4 linked regions of the Homo sapiens genome follow. The protein of the gene in region 4 purifies or fractionates together with the protein of the main gene of each other region. This does not show direct contact. Each region holds a gene or a part of one and is shown on either strand. Other genes may lie near its edges.

The links. The genes of interacting proteins can lie anywhere in the genome.
Region 1: the proteins of DRG1 (region 4) and SERPINB12 purify together in Homo sapiens (affinity purification with mass spectrometry; one large-scale study listed by BioGRID and IntAct). This does not show direct contact.
Region 2: the proteins of DRG1 (region 4) and PHF14 purify together in Homo sapiens (affinity purification with mass spectrometry; one large-scale study listed by BioGRID and IntAct). This does not show direct contact.
Region 3: the proteins of DRG1 (region 4) and DNAJC2 purify together in Homo sapiens (affinity purification with mass spectrometry; 2 studies listed by BioGRID and IntAct, with this or other methods). This does not show direct contact.

What each region holds. Positions count from the first base shown.
Region 1 is NC_000018.10:63,555,865-63,559,485, forward strand, and holds part of SERPINB12 (serpin B12), read left to right. Parts: intron 1-277; coding exon of another isoform or gene 278-295; coding exon 296-463; intron 464-2,487; coding exon 2,488-2,622; intron 2,623-3,621. UniProt on the Homo sapiens protein: Inhibits trypsin and plasmin, but not thrombin, coagulation factor Xa, or urokinase-type plasminogen activator. May play a role in cell differentiation.
Region 2 is NC_000007.14:10,972,694-10,976,788, forward strand, and holds the start of PHF14 (PHD finger protein 14), read left to right. Parts: upstream 1-1,178; 5' UTR 1,179-1,630; coding exon 1,631-1,631; intron 1,632-2,141; coding exon 2,142-2,252; intron 2,253-4,095. UniProt on the Homo sapiens protein: Histone-binding protein. Binds preferentially to unmodified histone H3 but can also bind to a lesser extent to histone H3 trimethylated at 'Lys-9' (H3K9me3) as well as to histone H3 monomethylated at 'Lys-27' (H3K27ac) and trimethylated at 'Lys-27' (H3K27me3).
Region 3 is NC_000007.14:103,317,151-103,320,771, forward strand, and holds part of DNAJC2 (dnaJ homolog subfamily C member 2), read right to left. Parts: intron 2,695-3,621; coding exon 2,606-2,694; intron 2,529-2,605; coding exon 2,459-2,528; intron 1-2,458. UniProt on the Homo sapiens protein: Acts both as a chaperone in the cytosol and as a chromatin regulator in the nucleus.
Region 4 is NC_000022.11:31,405,987-31,409,607, forward strand, and holds part of DRG1 (developmentally-regulated GTP-binding protein 1), read left to right. Parts: intron 1-3,621. UniProt on the Homo sapiens protein: Catalyzes the conversion of GTP to GDP through hydrolysis of the gamma-phosphate bond in GTP. Appears to have an intrinsic GTPase activity that is stimulated by ZC3H15/DFRP1 binding likely by increasing the affinity for the potassium ions.

The DNA.
Region 1 (3,621 bases), on a different chromosome or scaffold from region 4:
GAATAAACTCCTGCTATTTAAACCACTCAGTCTGTGGTAATTTCTTATGGCAGCCCCAGGAAACGAATTCACACTACTAAATGAAAATAGATCTCTGTCTATCAATATCAACACCAATATTTATATACAGGGATGATAATGACCTTAGTTTTCCAGTTCTTAATAGCATACTGAATAATTGTGCATGATTGTATTTCAGGTATGTAAAATAAAATTGTTTGTTCACTTATTTTCTTCCAATCACCATTTTCTCTTTCTCCTTTTTTTTTGGTTTTAGATCGTTATAAGTTTTACAATGGACTCTCTTGTTACAGCAAACACCAAATTTTGCTTTGATCTTTTTCAAGAGATAGGCAAAGATGATCGTCATAAAAACATATTTTTCTCTCCCCTGAGCCTCTCAGCTGCCCTTGGTATGGTACGCTTGGGTGCTAGAAGTGACAGTGCACATCAGATTGATGAGGTACGTGTCCACTAGGGTGCTACACAGGGTCCTAAACTCTGGGTCCACACTCAAAGTCAGACCCTAATCCCACTTAGGCAAGCCAAGGGGCTTATTGCACCCTGGGCTTGGTCAGAACCCATCCCTGTCTCTGAGTCTTTATTTGTATTTTCTCCATCTTACTTCCTCTTCGATCCTACCATTCTTAAAGTCTCACTTAAACTTGTACCTTCTTTAGGGTGCTCCTCAACTTCATGTCTGGCAGCTTTTCTCATTCATCTCTATCTTTATCTCTGTATGCATGTCTGTCACTCTTTTACTCTATGATTGCTAATACCAATATTGCTAGCGATTTTTAGTATGTGTATATGTCTTCTGTCTCACTCATTTCATTAAATAAATATTCATTAAGTACCATATATGGTTCCAGTGGCTAGAGAGCTTGGTGTCCTCCTGGACTCTTTCTCTCTCACTTTATACCACATTTGTTAGAAAATTCTGTTGGCTTTTCTTTTGAAAGATATCCATAATCCAGGCACTTCTCCCAGTCTCCTTGAGGTCTGAACCACAACCATCTTTTCTCACCTGGATACTGCAGCAACTTCCTGATGGGCTTTCCTGCTCTCACTGGCAATCTATCCTTTGCACAGCAGTCCAAGAGACCCTTTTAAAACCTGAGCCAGATTCTATTTCTCATCTGTTCAAAAACCTGGATTTCTTATTTCACTCATGATAGCAGTTCAAGTCCTTACAATGGCCCACAAGGATCTGGAGATCTGAATCCCAGATAAGCCCTGTGACTCCATCTCTCACTTTCATCCCTCCTCACTGTACCTGTCACATTGGCCTCCTGGCTTCCTTGGGTAAGTCATGCCCATCCTATCTTGGGGCCTTTGCTCTCGGTCCCTTTGCCTGATGGCTCTTTCCCCTGGTAACTGACCTCAGCTCACTTTCTTCTTCAAGACTTTGATCAGTGTTTATCTCCTATACGGGGCCTACTTTGACCTCCTAATCTAGTGCTGCATCCTGACCTCCAGACCATAAGGGATACTTTTGTAGGCACCTAATAAACATTTCTAGAATAAATAAATGAAGGTAATAAGAACAAATCCCCAAATAAACTACAAGTTCCCATGGTTGGCCTTATACTTCCTTGGATGTAGCACATAGTGCGGGGGTTATGCACAACTCAGGCTGTTTCCCCTGAATATGGAGCAGTAGAATTTATGGATTAAGACAGAATGTGTTTCTGGGGTCATTCTGCTTTATTCATCTACTAAGATTTGGTGTATTATTTTCTTATTCCATTAGCAAAACTTAGCTTTAGAGTGTGGTTTGCATCTTGCAGGGCAGAATTCAGATGTTCTTTCTTAGGCAGTTGAGGGCACCTGCTGACCAAATGGGTCTGAGTAGTGCAGGATATGACGCCTGTCTCCTACCTTTCTACCAGGCTCTGGATAACTTGTCTTTTGCTGTCCTCACTCCCTTGATTCATGTGAAACTCTAGATCAGCACTGTCTGACACAAACATAATGAGAACCACATAGTAATTTAAAATTTTTTAGTAACTGTATTGCAAAAGTAAAAAGAAACAGGTGGGACTAATTTTAATAATAATTTTTTAACCTAGTATATGCAAAATATCATATCCACATATCATCAATATAAGAATTTTAATGAGCTATTTTATTTATTTATTTTTTTATACTATATTCAAGATCTGGTGTGTATTTTGCACTTACAGTCAATTCAGATTGGGTATCTATGAAATGCTCCATAGTTACATTTAGCTTGTGGATACCTCTATGTTCTTTTAGTTTGGTTATATTTATTCATAAATGCTCTCCCAGGGTAGCGGTTGGTTCTTCTCCTCGATTCCACCTCCCAACCCAAGTACAGAAGCACCCACTTTCCTTTAAACTGTTGTTGATTGTTTTGTTTGACTATGTAATCATTGCCATTGTCTCATTATGAAATGTTTCTGAAGTTATTCAGGCTTCCCTCTGTTCATATTATCTGAAAGACCCCATCCCGTTATCATGCAGGTACTACACTTCAACGAATTTTCCCAGAATGAAAGCAAAGAACCTGACCCTTGTCTGAAAAGCAACAAACAAAAAGTGCTGGCTGACAGCTCTCTGGAGGGGCAGAAAAAAACGACAGAGCCTCTGGATCAGCAGGTGAACCGCCACCGTAGAAAACTCTTGCCTTTCTTTTTTACAAACTGCTTATTCTGGCTGTAGGATATTTGGTGATAGTTGCTTATCCCCAAATATTAGACTCTGGATACCATCAACAGCAATAACCTCATGTGATCTGTGATTCCTGAGTATGGATCTCAGATGTCCTTGGCTATCAGCTAGTTTCCTAAAGAGTAGGATCTGGTGTCTTCTGCTTATGATAAAGAAGCCTAGATCATCACTCTGTCCCTCATCTGCTTCTATAGGCCACAGGGCCCCAACACAGAGTATGGTCAAAGATAAAGGTGGTAAGGGGTAGGGTCAGCTGTGGAATTCTTACTGTCTCCCTCTATCTCTGCTTGTTCCATTTCGTGCTGAAATCTGCACTGACAGACAAAACTTTTATTGGTTGCCTCATGCCAGGAGGAGGAAAGATATTATCCAGGGTATGCATCCCCCTACTTTAGAAAGTTTAAGAGGAGGGTGGATAGATGATTGTCTTTCTTTCTTTCCTTCCTTCTTTCTTTCTTTCTTTCTTTCTTTCTTTCTTTCTTTCTTTCTTTCTTTCTTTCTCTCCTTCTTCTCTCCTTCTCTCCTTCTCTCTTTCTCTCTTTCTTTCTTTCTTTTTGTTTTTTCTGAGATGGAGTTTCGTTGTGTTGCCAGGCTGGAGTGCAGTGGCGCAATCTCAGCTCACTTCAACCTCCGCCTCCTGGGTTCAAGCAATTTTCCTGCCTCAGCCTCCAGAGTAGCTGGGATTACAGGCATGAGCCACCATGCCTGGCCTCTTTGAAATGTAAAGAAAATCAGAGTGTGTCAGTCTGAAATATAGTGAGCGTTGCTGAGTTCCCCAGATGTATTTTTCCTGGATGATCTTGATATAGATGTGGGAGCCATAATCTTCCACTGGGACCACTTCTCACCCTCCATTCCTCTGTTCTTCCCAGCTCACTTCCCCCAGCATGGTAACAGAGACAGCTGACATCTTACTAAGAAGCTCTA
Region 2 (4,095 bases), on a different chromosome or scaffold from region 4:
AAAAGAATGGGCATTGAAAAGGAAAAATGTTTACTAAGTAGGTTATACATTTTGGAATAGAAGTTTCTATAGCACAATAGAAAAGTTTGAGAGGTCACATGGCAATGATAGTTTGGGTGAGAGTGAGGCAGGAGAATAGGGTGTGGAGGCAGGGAACCTAAGGATGTGTCACTCCGACTTCCTAAGAACTAAATTGAAAGGAAACCCCTAACTTTCCATGCCTAAGTAACAAAAGGACCAGAGGCTACTCCCTTTGCAAACCCCCACTTTTTCTGCAGGGCAGATGGGAAATTGGCTGTGGGCAGCAAATCAGACTGATTGCAGGAGAGTCTTCCTTTGCATAGAAGTATCACTTTGTAACTTCACCATCTGCAAGAAATCAAACTGATTGCAGGGGAAATCTTCCTTTGCATAGAGGTATACCACTTTGTAACTTCACCCTAGCCTCTGATTGATTGCTTTTTGCACCAATGTTTGCACAGGAGCATGACCTTTGTAACTTCACTTCAGCCTCTGGTTGGCTGCTTTCTGCAACCAATCAGACTGATTGCGCGTTACTTCATTTACATGAGGTGAGCATTAGGTGGCCAATAGGAAGCTTCTAGAGGGTATTTGGACTCAAGATTCTGTATCCGGGCCCTTGAGCCGCTGCTCAGGTCGCTTCCGTACAGAGCGTGCTTTAATTTTCAATAAGTCCCTGCTTTTGTTGTTTTGTTGCTTCATTCTTTCTTTGCTTTGCTGGGCGTTTTGTCCAATTCTTTGTTAAAAACGCCAAGAACCTGGACAACTTGCAGTCACGATCCTCTACCGGTGACAATATCATTTAAATATTGGTAGTGGCTTAAGGTAGCAAACATCCCTTTGTGGAACGTTTACTCAGTAAATCCTTAAAAAACAGATCAGAAACAAAAACTGGCCTCCCAGGGATTTGGACTCAGGAGGTGAATTAGGCGCGGAGAGGGCGGAGCCTTTGGGGTTTATGGGCGGAATTGCACAGGGTTTGGCGGGGATCTCTGCTCCGCCTTGGCACTACTCGGCTCCGCTCGCCTCCGCGCGGCTCCCTGGGCTTTCACTCGGCTCTGTTCGGCTCCTGCTCGGGAAGGGTGCGCGGGGGCGAGTCCTGCGCATGCGCCCTCAATTCCTGCTGCTCTCAGGGCTGCGCTCAGCCTCGTGTTTTCACTTCCTTTTCAGAGCTGTATCCGGGTCGCTGCTTTCCCTATTGTCTGAGGCAGCCGCCCTCGCGCTGTGCAATTTCTGGTCTTTCGTTGCTTCTGGTCCAGGCTAATAAAGTTTTTCTTTCTTTAATTTTTTTTCTTCTAGTTTTAACGGGAGAAATTAACTCCCCGGGGCCGCCGGGTTGACTGCGCTGCCTGGGCCGGAGGTCTTCTCCGGCCAGGGAGCGCTGTGGGAAGGGGCTCGAGCGGCCAGGGCCAGGCGAGGCCGGGGGGGCGGGGGGTTAGGGGACCGCGGGGCTACTCTTGGGAGCGCCCCTGTCCGGCTGGCTGCGCGCCGGTTTTAAATAGCATCTTTCGGACTTGTCTTCGCGGCCCCAGTCCCCGACCTCGGCGCTGCCTGGGCTCCTGCAGCCTCTCCCTAAGTCTTCTCCAAACGACCACCTCACGGATTCCTTAGTAAGTGTATCCGAGGCCTCTGCGGCGAGAGGTCCATTTCAGCCATTCTAGAAGTCAGGGCCGGTGGGAGCAGGGCAGGGGTGGGAGAGTCCTGCGGGAAAGCAGGATTGGTGGACCCTCGCCCTCCATGGTCCGCGGGAATGAAGCCCGCTTGTTTTATTCCCTGATTTTTGCCGTTTTTATTGACTGTTACGATGTCTAAGTGGGGGATTACGAGGAAGGTGCAGAAACATCTCGAAAAGATGAGCAAGAGGGTCAGCTTCGATTTTAGCTGGTCTGAGTTGGCGTTGGCAGCATCAGGGCTGGAGCTGCCTTTGAAACTGCCCGTGGAGCTGTCCAGCCCTCCCCACCCTGCTTCTGCACCCCAACCTTCTCCTGACCCCTTTTGCTGAGAACTCAGTTAGACAAAAATTCCTTGTGCGAGGTCATCTTTATGTTCTCTTAGCACCACAACTCTCCCCTGTGTTTGGTGTGATTATGAATGACAATGTAATTTTTTTCTCTTCACAGTGGATCGCAGCTCCAAGAGGAGGCAGGTGAAGCCTTTGGCAGCTTCTCTGCTGGAAGCTCTTGATTATGATAGTTCAGATGACAGTGATTTTAAAGTTGGAGATGCCTCAGGTAAATATTTCCTTCTCTCTTCCCCTTTCCCAGCTTTCTGGAGTTAGGCTTATTTTTAGACTTTTTAAATCGGTTTTGATTAAAATGCCAATTTTAAGTGAAAGCACGTAAACTTCATTTATTTTGTCCATTTGATTTCCCATTTTGCCTTTAGATCCTGTCACTAGACCTATAATTGCTTCTGTTTTCCTCAGAGATAATTAGCAGTCAGGGGAAGGACTTTTTCCAAAGATGCAAAAGGATTTCTCTGTTTTACACCTTAAAATATATTTATGCTTATATTATAGAGGAAAAAACTGAAAGATATCCCGAAGTAGAAAAGTATCCTGAGAGGTGTGTGGACCATTAATAGTCCCTGAGCAGGGTTCTTCTTTTTTCAGATCACTTGACAATCTCTTAGGGGAGTTTTGCTTTTTTTGTGTATTAGCTCTTTTACTAGAATAAAATTGACCAGAGTAAGAGTTGCACTTCAAATTATAGTAGGTGCTGGACCTTGTGGATTGGGCCTTTCAGATGTCTCTGAAGTATAAGTCATGCATGCTTGCTCACTATATTTAGTAATTTTAAAAACTTTTTTTAAAGGTCGTATATTCACATTGTACTAAACTGGAAAACAGAAAAGTATGATTTTCCTTTGTATTTTCTGTTCAGTGTACCTTATGTATATATACAGTTTCAATTGAAGGAATCTGAGAAACAAAAATTATGTTTAATTTAAATGTTTTATGGGAAAAATACTGATAAACATGAACAATGAAAATTATGTGTAATTCCACCTCTTTTGAAAATTTTAATAAAGTGAGATGAAAATTTAAATAAAATGAGAAGTAAAAGCCTTTCCAGTTTCATCTCTTCAACAGTTTTTAAATATACTTCCAGAGAGTTTGCCGTGGTTAGTCACATCTCTCCTTCTTCTGGTTTTCCCTTGTCTTTTTCCTGCTAGGGATAGTAGGAAGGGATGAACGAAATTATATTACTGTTGCTACTTTTAGTAGCATCAACAGCAGAATTTGCATTGTGATTTACTGATAACTTTTTGTTTGCATAATCTCACTTAATTTTCACAGTAACTTAGTGAAGGAGATACCATTTTACAGGTAACAGGGGTATTGAGTTTAAAGAACTGGCATGAGGTCACTCAGGCAGTAACGGATCCAATGGATTTGACTTCAGAATTTAGTCTGTTTATCTGCTTGGATCCCAAGAGTTGATGGACGGAATCTTAAACAGAAACTGACTATTTGGTTACTAATTGAATTCATCCGCAGCAATCAAAAATTGATAAGTTTATCTTGATTAACTGTTTTTTTATCCTTTGCTTCTCAGCTCTTTATCTCCCATTTAGTTGGTTTGCTGATATTTGGTATTTCCAAAGAAGGGAAGGGGAAGGGAAAGGAGGTAAAATTTAAATCTTAGTTCTCTTGGTAAAGACCTTGGCAGATAAGAATATTCCTGGCTAGGATGTAGTTTTGGTTTGTTATGGTTGTGGTTGTAAACTTTGACAAACATAGTTGGGTCGTGGAAGTTACGAATTCTTTGAATATGGGAACAATTCTAAAACTTACATTAAGTATTACATTATTATGTGACAATAAATCTTGACTTTATGGACAATTTGTTTCCAAGGTTTGTTCATTGAGATGGAATATTCACAGGTATCACTTCTTTTTCAAGTGGTAAAACAATCTGATACAAACATAAAGTACTTTCTCAAAATATTTTATGATATCGAGCTAAGTAGAGATTTCTGACCTTGTTAAATCCTAATTATAGTTGAAGAGAACTGTTATTTGTGAAAAATGATAGGATGAGTTTTGTTAGGTTGATATATCTATATATCCCT
Region 3 (3,621 bases), on a different chromosome or scaffold from region 4:
CAAAAAGAAGCACCAGCTTTTCACTCTGGCTTCCAGTCTGCATAGGTCTGCCTGAGGGACCAAGAACTGCCCACAGCCTGCCTGATTTTCCCAGTACTCATGTCATGTGACTTCCATTAGCCTTGGACACTAATTGACAAGTCTGTGGGTCACTGAGTTATTCATCCACAAGGCCATTTCAAACCTCTCTTCAAACTCATATTCACCCTTTCTGCAGACAATCTCATTTATTCTCTACCAAAAGGTGAAGGCATAGCAAAATGGCCTCTTTTATTTTGAAGCTCTACCATTTACATTGTTCCTTCTAGACTACCTTCAAACATGCACAAGTAAAAAAAGAACCTTTATTTGCCCTTGTTGCTTCTGTCAGCTGCTATCTTAAGAGTCAGCTTTGGCTCATTTCTCCCCTTCAATCCCTTAGAACCAGTAAAGTCCCAATAATGCTAACCTTGAAAAATTTTTTTGATTCCCATCATCACATTCATAGTGCAGGTTCTTTTTCTTTCTTTCTTACTTTTGAGGCAGAGTCTCACTCTGTCGCCCAGGCTGGAGTGCAGTGGTGTGATTTCTGCTTACTGCAACCTCCGCCTCCTAGGTTGAAGTGATTCTCCTGCCTCAGCCTCCCAAGTAGCTGGGATTACAGATGCCTGCCACCATGCCCAGCTAATTTTTGTATTTTTAGCAGAGATGGGGTTTCATCATGTTGGCCAGGCTAGTCTCAAACTCCTGACCTCAGGGGATCTGTCTGCCTTGGCCTCCCAAAGTGCTCGGATTATAGGCATGAGCCACCACGCTCATAGTGCAGATTCTTAAATAAATAAGATTCTTGTAACTAGTTACATCTATCTGATGCACCTTATCCACAAACGTCAGATTAGTAGTACAATGTTGAACCTTCTGTTAATCAAAGATTTGCAGTAATGGAAACTAGTCAACAAGGTATTAAAAACCTGATCATTGGTTCTGCTTTTCCTAACTGATTTTGTTTCCCACTCCATTTCCCCATAACATTTTTTTTTTGTCTGTTTTTTTTGAGACAAAGTCTCGCTCTGTTGCCCAGGTTGGAGTGCACCGACATGATCATAGCTCACTGCAGCTGTGACCTCCCAGGCTCAGGTAATCCTCTAACCTCAGCCTCCTGAGAAGTTGGGACTACAGGTACACGACACCATGCCAGTTAATTTTTGTATTTTCGGTAGAGATTTTGTTTATGTTGCCCAGGCTGAACCATACTTTATACTTCTACTTCTATTTTATAGTTTGTGGTATTCTTCTGACCTTCATTTTAACTCTGTCCTTCCTTTCAGGCTGGTTCAAACTACACTGAGCCTTCCCTGGTCACTAAAACTTGTGGCCCTTCCTATCCTACACCTCATTTACTATGGGCTCTCCATCTTTTGGTCCTTAAGGTTCTTCTCAGGTTCTTCTCAGCATGTCCTTTGTGGTGCAACAGCATTAGGCATTTCTCCAAAAGAACCTAGGCATAGTGCTATATATAGTAGGTACTAATACTTGTTGAATTGAATTGAATTTCTGGGCCTGTTTTCTTATCTGTAAAATAAAAGGTATAGACTAGACAGAACAAAGATCTCTTTTGGTTCTAACTGTTATTACCCTATGAAAATACTCAAGGAATAATCAAAACAATTATTTTTTTCTAATATGATTTTGCAAAAGCTATGCTTGTGATAGATACCACAAATCAAACACTAAGTATGGTAAAAACCATAAACATCTAATCCAACTTAAATCAACAACAGCACCTTACTACATAAACAAAATGCAGACTGGGCATGGTGGCTCATGCCTATAATCCTTTGGGAGGCCAATGCGGACGGATCACTTGAGGTAAGGAGTTTGAGACCAGCCTGGCCAACACAGCGAAACCCTGTCTCTAGTAAAAATACAAAAATCAGCCGGGCATGGTGGCACACACCTGTAATCCCACCCGCACTCCAGCCTGGGTGACAGAGAGAGACTCCATCTCAAAAACAAAAACAAAAACAGGCTGGGCGTGGTGGTTCACACCTATAATCCCAGCACTTTGAGAAGCCTACATGGGCAGATCATGAGGTCAAGAATTCAAGACCAGCCTGACCAACATGGTGAAACCCTGTCTCTACCAAAAATACAAAAATTAGCCAGGTGTGGTGTTGTGCGCCTATAATCCCAGTTACTCAGGAGGCTGAGGCAGGAGAATCACTTGAACCCGGGAGGCGGAGGTTGTAGTGAGCCAAGATCGTGCCACTGCACTCCAGCCTGGGCAACAGAGCAAGACTCTGTCTCAAAACAAAAAACCAAAAAACCGAACACATAAAACAACAACAACAAAACAGTGGGAAACATAAAGAGAAATCAGATACTCCCTGCACTTGGTGACTTATATATTAGGTGAAGAAACAGGTCAAAGCAGAATTAAATGCTACATATAGGTAGGAGTGATGTGTTCCTCTATTACCTGTTTTTCCAAAGCAGCCTTTCCTACTTCTTTTGTGCATGATGTGAGTGTTTCATTCAAGCACTGTAAGCTAAAGAAAAAAAAAGAAGAAATGAAACTTTATCCTAAGCTCAAGTGAAGACTTCAATAGCAGTTCCATAGGTATACCTTGCCAGTTCAAGCCGATCACAAAGTTTTTCCACTTCTTCCATCATTTTAACCCGCTCTGCCTCATTATCAGAAAAATGATTCCAGGTCTAAAAGCACAAACACAAAAATAGTATCTACACTCAAAAATACATCCATCAACATAATTACAAAGCTGTAATCCCAGCTACTCGGGAGGCTGAGGCAGGAGAATCGCTTGAACCTGGAGGCGGAAATTGCAGCAAACTGAGATCACGCCACTGCACTCCAGCCTGGACAACAGAGCAAGACTCCATCTCAAAAAAACAGACAATGACAACTGAACAGGTATAATTTTATCTCAGTGTAAATGTTTTTAACTTTTTCTTTTCTTTGAGACGGAGTCTCACTGTCGCCCAGGCTGGAGTCCAGTGGCACGAAATCGGCTCACTGCAACCTCCACCTCCCGGGTTCAAGCTATTCTTCTGCCTCAGTCTCCTGAGTAGCTGGAATTACAGGCGCCTGCCACCACACCTGGCTAATTTTTTCTATATTTAGTAGAGACGGGGTTTCACCATTTTGGCCAGGCTGGTCTTGAACTCCTGACCTTGTGATCCACCCGCCTCAGCCTCCCAAAGTGCTGGTTACAGGTGTGAGCCACCGCGCCCGGCTGTTTTTAACTTTTTCTAAATTTCAGGTGTACATATTTCAGTTTTCAACCCTGATAGTTTTTTTCTAAACATAATCATCTTACCATTATCAAACCAAAAAACAAGTTAATATTCTAAAACTGTCCCAGCACTTTGGGAGGCCGAGGCAGGCGGATCGTGAGGTCAGGAGATCGAGACCATCCTGGCTAACACAGTGAAACCCCGTCTCTACTAAAAATCCAAAAAATTAGCCGGGCGTGGTCCCAGCTACTCGGGAGGCTGAGGCAGGAGCATGGCGTGAACCCAGGAGGCGGAGCTTGCAGTGAGCGGAGATTGCGCCACTGTACTCCAGCCTGGGCGACAGAGCAAGACTCTGTCACAAAATATATATATATACACATATATATA
Region 4 (3,621 bases):
CGTTTCTTTTTTCTTTTTTCTTTTTTTTTTTTTTTTGAGACGAAGTCTCATTGTGTTGCCCAAGATGGAGTGCAGTGGCACAATCTCGGCTCACTCCAACCTCCTCCCGGCTTCAAGTGATTCTCCTGCCTCAGCCTCCTGAGTAGCTGGGACTATAGGTATGTGCCACCATGCCCGACTAATTTTTGTATTTTTAGTAGAGACGGAGTTTCACTATGTTGGCCAGGCTGGTCTTGAACTCCTGACCTCATGATCTGCCTGCCTCGACCTCCCAAAATGTTGGGATTACAGGTGTGAGCCACTGCGCTTGGCCACTTACCTGCTTTTTGTTACTGTAGATTAGTTTACATGTTAAGAACTTTACATAAACAAAAACCACATATAAATATAAATGCACTTTCTTTTCCATAGGCTTCTTTCATTCTGCATAATTTTGCATTCATGTTGGTGAGCTTTTAATTCTCTCTCGTGGTCTTTTTTTCTCTCATTTTGTATAAACTTTTTGAGCTTGGCCAACATGTTGAAACCCTGTCTCTACTAAAAATAAAAAATTAGCCAGGCATCTTTAATACCAGCTCCTAGGGAGGTTGAGGCAGGAGAATTGCTTGAACCTGGGAGGCAGATGTTGCAGTGAGCCGAGATCGTGTTACTGCACTCCAGCCTGGGCGACAGAATGAGACCCTGTCCCGGAAAAAAAAAAAAAAAGTTGCAAACATAGTACAAAGAGTTCTCGTATCACTTGCCTGCTTCTCCTGTTGTTAACATCTTACATAACCATAGAAAAATTATCAGAGATAGATGAACATTTCTGCAACAGTATTCACTAAACTATAGATCTTATTTTAATTTTTACCTGTTTTTTCCACCAGTGTCCTTTTTCTCTTCTAAAATTTTTATCTAGGATCATCCCATGATGCATTTAGCTATTTCTGTCTATTTGTTTGCCATCTGCAGTAGTCTCTGTCTTATCTTTTGTGACCTTGTCACTCTCAAAGAGTAATGATCAGTTATTTTGTATAATGTTCCTCAATTTGGGTTTGTGTGATGTTTTCTCTTGGTTAGACTTATTAGGTATTTTTGGCAAGAATACCACAGAAATGATACTGTCTTTCTCAGTGCCTCCTACCATGGGATTCATATTGTCAGTATGTCTTATTGGTGATATTGTCCTCCATCAATTGGTTATGGTTGTGTCTGTAGGGTTTCTCTAAAGTTACCTTTTTTTGGACAGTTAATATATATTTTAGGGGAGATACTTCAAGAAGATGCAAATCCTGTTTTTCCTCAAACTTTTGCCTGCTCATTTTCGCATCCATCTGTGGGTCTTGTCTGTAACAGTTATTATTGTACTTTTGCCTCATGGTAATTCTCCCTCGCTCTGTCACCCAGGCTGAATGCAGTGGCACGGGTACGATCATGGCTCACTGCAGCCTCGACCTCCTGGGTTCAAGTGATCCTCCCACCGTAGCCTTCCAAGTAGCTGGGACTATAGGCATGCACTACCATGCCTGACTAATTTTTTATTTTTTTGTAGAGACAGAGTCTCAATATGTTGTCCAGGCTGGTCTTGAACTCCTGCACACAAGCAGTCTACCTGCCTCAGCCTCCTGAGGTGCTGGGGTTATAGGCATGAGCCACTGTCCTGGGCCTGAGTATGTTCTTTTGTTTGTTTTATTTTTATTTTTTATTTTCATTTTTCTTTTTTTTTTTTTTGAGTACGTTCTTGAATGGAGAAGTTGAACTGTCTCGCACCTGCTAAATCAGTTTTCATTGCAGTTTATTTAATGCAAAGTATATTTCTGTAATTTCTTATATTCTTAGAGCAAAGCATATCTGATTTAAATTATGTTTTGGTCAGGCGTGGTGGTTCAAGCCTATAATCCCAGCACTTTGGGAGGCCGAGGTGAGCGGATCACCTGAGGTCAGGAGATCGAGACCAGCTTGGCCAATGTGGTGAAACCCTGTCTCTACTAAAAATACACAAAAAAAATTAGTGGGGCATGGTGGCGGGCACCTGTAATCCCAGCTACTCGGGAGGCTGAGGCAGGAGAATTACTTGAACCTGAGAGGCAGAGGTTGCAGTGAGCCGAGATCACACCACCGCACTCCAGCCTGGGTGATGGAGCGAGACTCCCCTTTTTTTCCTTCTTTTTTTTTTTTTTTTTTTTTTGAGATAGAGTCTTGCTTCATTGCCCAGGCTGGAGTGCAGTGGTGTGATCTCAGCTCACTGCAACCTCTGCCTCCTGGGTTCAAGCAATTCTCCTGCCTCAGCCTCCTGAGGGAGCTGGGATTACAGGTGCCCGCCACTACGCCCCACTAATTTTTTTGTGTATTTTTAGTAGAGACAGGGTTTCACCATGTTGGCCAAGCTGGTCTTGATCTCCTGACCTCAGATGATCCGCTCACCTTGGCCTCCCAAAGTACTGGGATTACAGGCTTGAGCCACCATGCCCAGCTGAGAATCCCTATGAAAAAGCAAGGCCAGACACTGTGTCTCATGCCTATAATCCCAGCACTTTGGGAGACTGACGCGAGCAGATCACTTGAGGTCAGGAGTTCGAGACCAGCCTGGCCAACATGGTGAAAACTTGTCTCTACTAAAAATACATAAAAAAAATTGGTGGGGCATGGTGGCGAGCACCTGTAATCCCAGCTGCTCAGGAGGCTGAGGTGCGAGAATCGCTTGAACCTGGGAGGCGGACATTGCAATGAACCAAGATTGCACCACTGCACTTCAGCCTGGGCGATAGAGCGAGACTCATTCTCAAAAAAAAAAAAAAAAAAAAAAAGATATTTTAAGTGATGTTTTAATAAGCTGCATCTGTTTTCAGTTCATTTATGTGTATAATTCAGTATTTGCCATACAGTAGACCCTTGGTATTTTTAGATTTTATATTTGTTTTAACTGTTTTGACTGATTCTTAAGGGCAGTCAAATTAATAGTTTATAATTTTGCTGAGATGTAAATTTGAATCACATGTGCTGTGGGGTTGGTTTTTCAATCACATCATTAGGTACACTGAGTTCTGTGAAGTTTTACCTTACTGCATTTCCTGGGCAGTTGAGCAGTCATTTTTATCTTTTTAAAATCTTTTAAAATTTATTTATTTATTTTTATTATTTTTTGAGATGGAGTCTTACTCTGTCGCCCAGGCTGGCATAATCTCGGCTCACTGCAACCTTCGACTGTCGGGTTCAAGCCATTCTTGTGCCTCAGCCTCCAGAGTAGCTGGGATTACAGGTGTGTGCCACCATACCCGGCTAATTTTTGTATTTTTTGTACAGACGGGGTTTCACCATGTTGGCTAGGATGGTCTCGAACTCCTGAGCTCAAGCAATCTGCCTGCTTCGGCCTCTGGGAAAGTGCTGTGGAATTATAGGTGTGAGTTACTGGGCCCAGCCTGAGCAGTCATTTTTTACTGGGGACATACATCAGAGTCACTTGTAAAGCCTTTTGAAGTACAGATCCCTATCTGTTGGCCCTTCAAATCAGAATCTGCAGGGATGGGTTTCAGCTCTCTACATTTTAAAAGTTTTTCCAGGTGATTCGGTTGTGCCTGCTTAAGAACGGCTACAAAAATTTTTGTGAGTTGGGGATTTGCAGAAATTGCAATATGTATC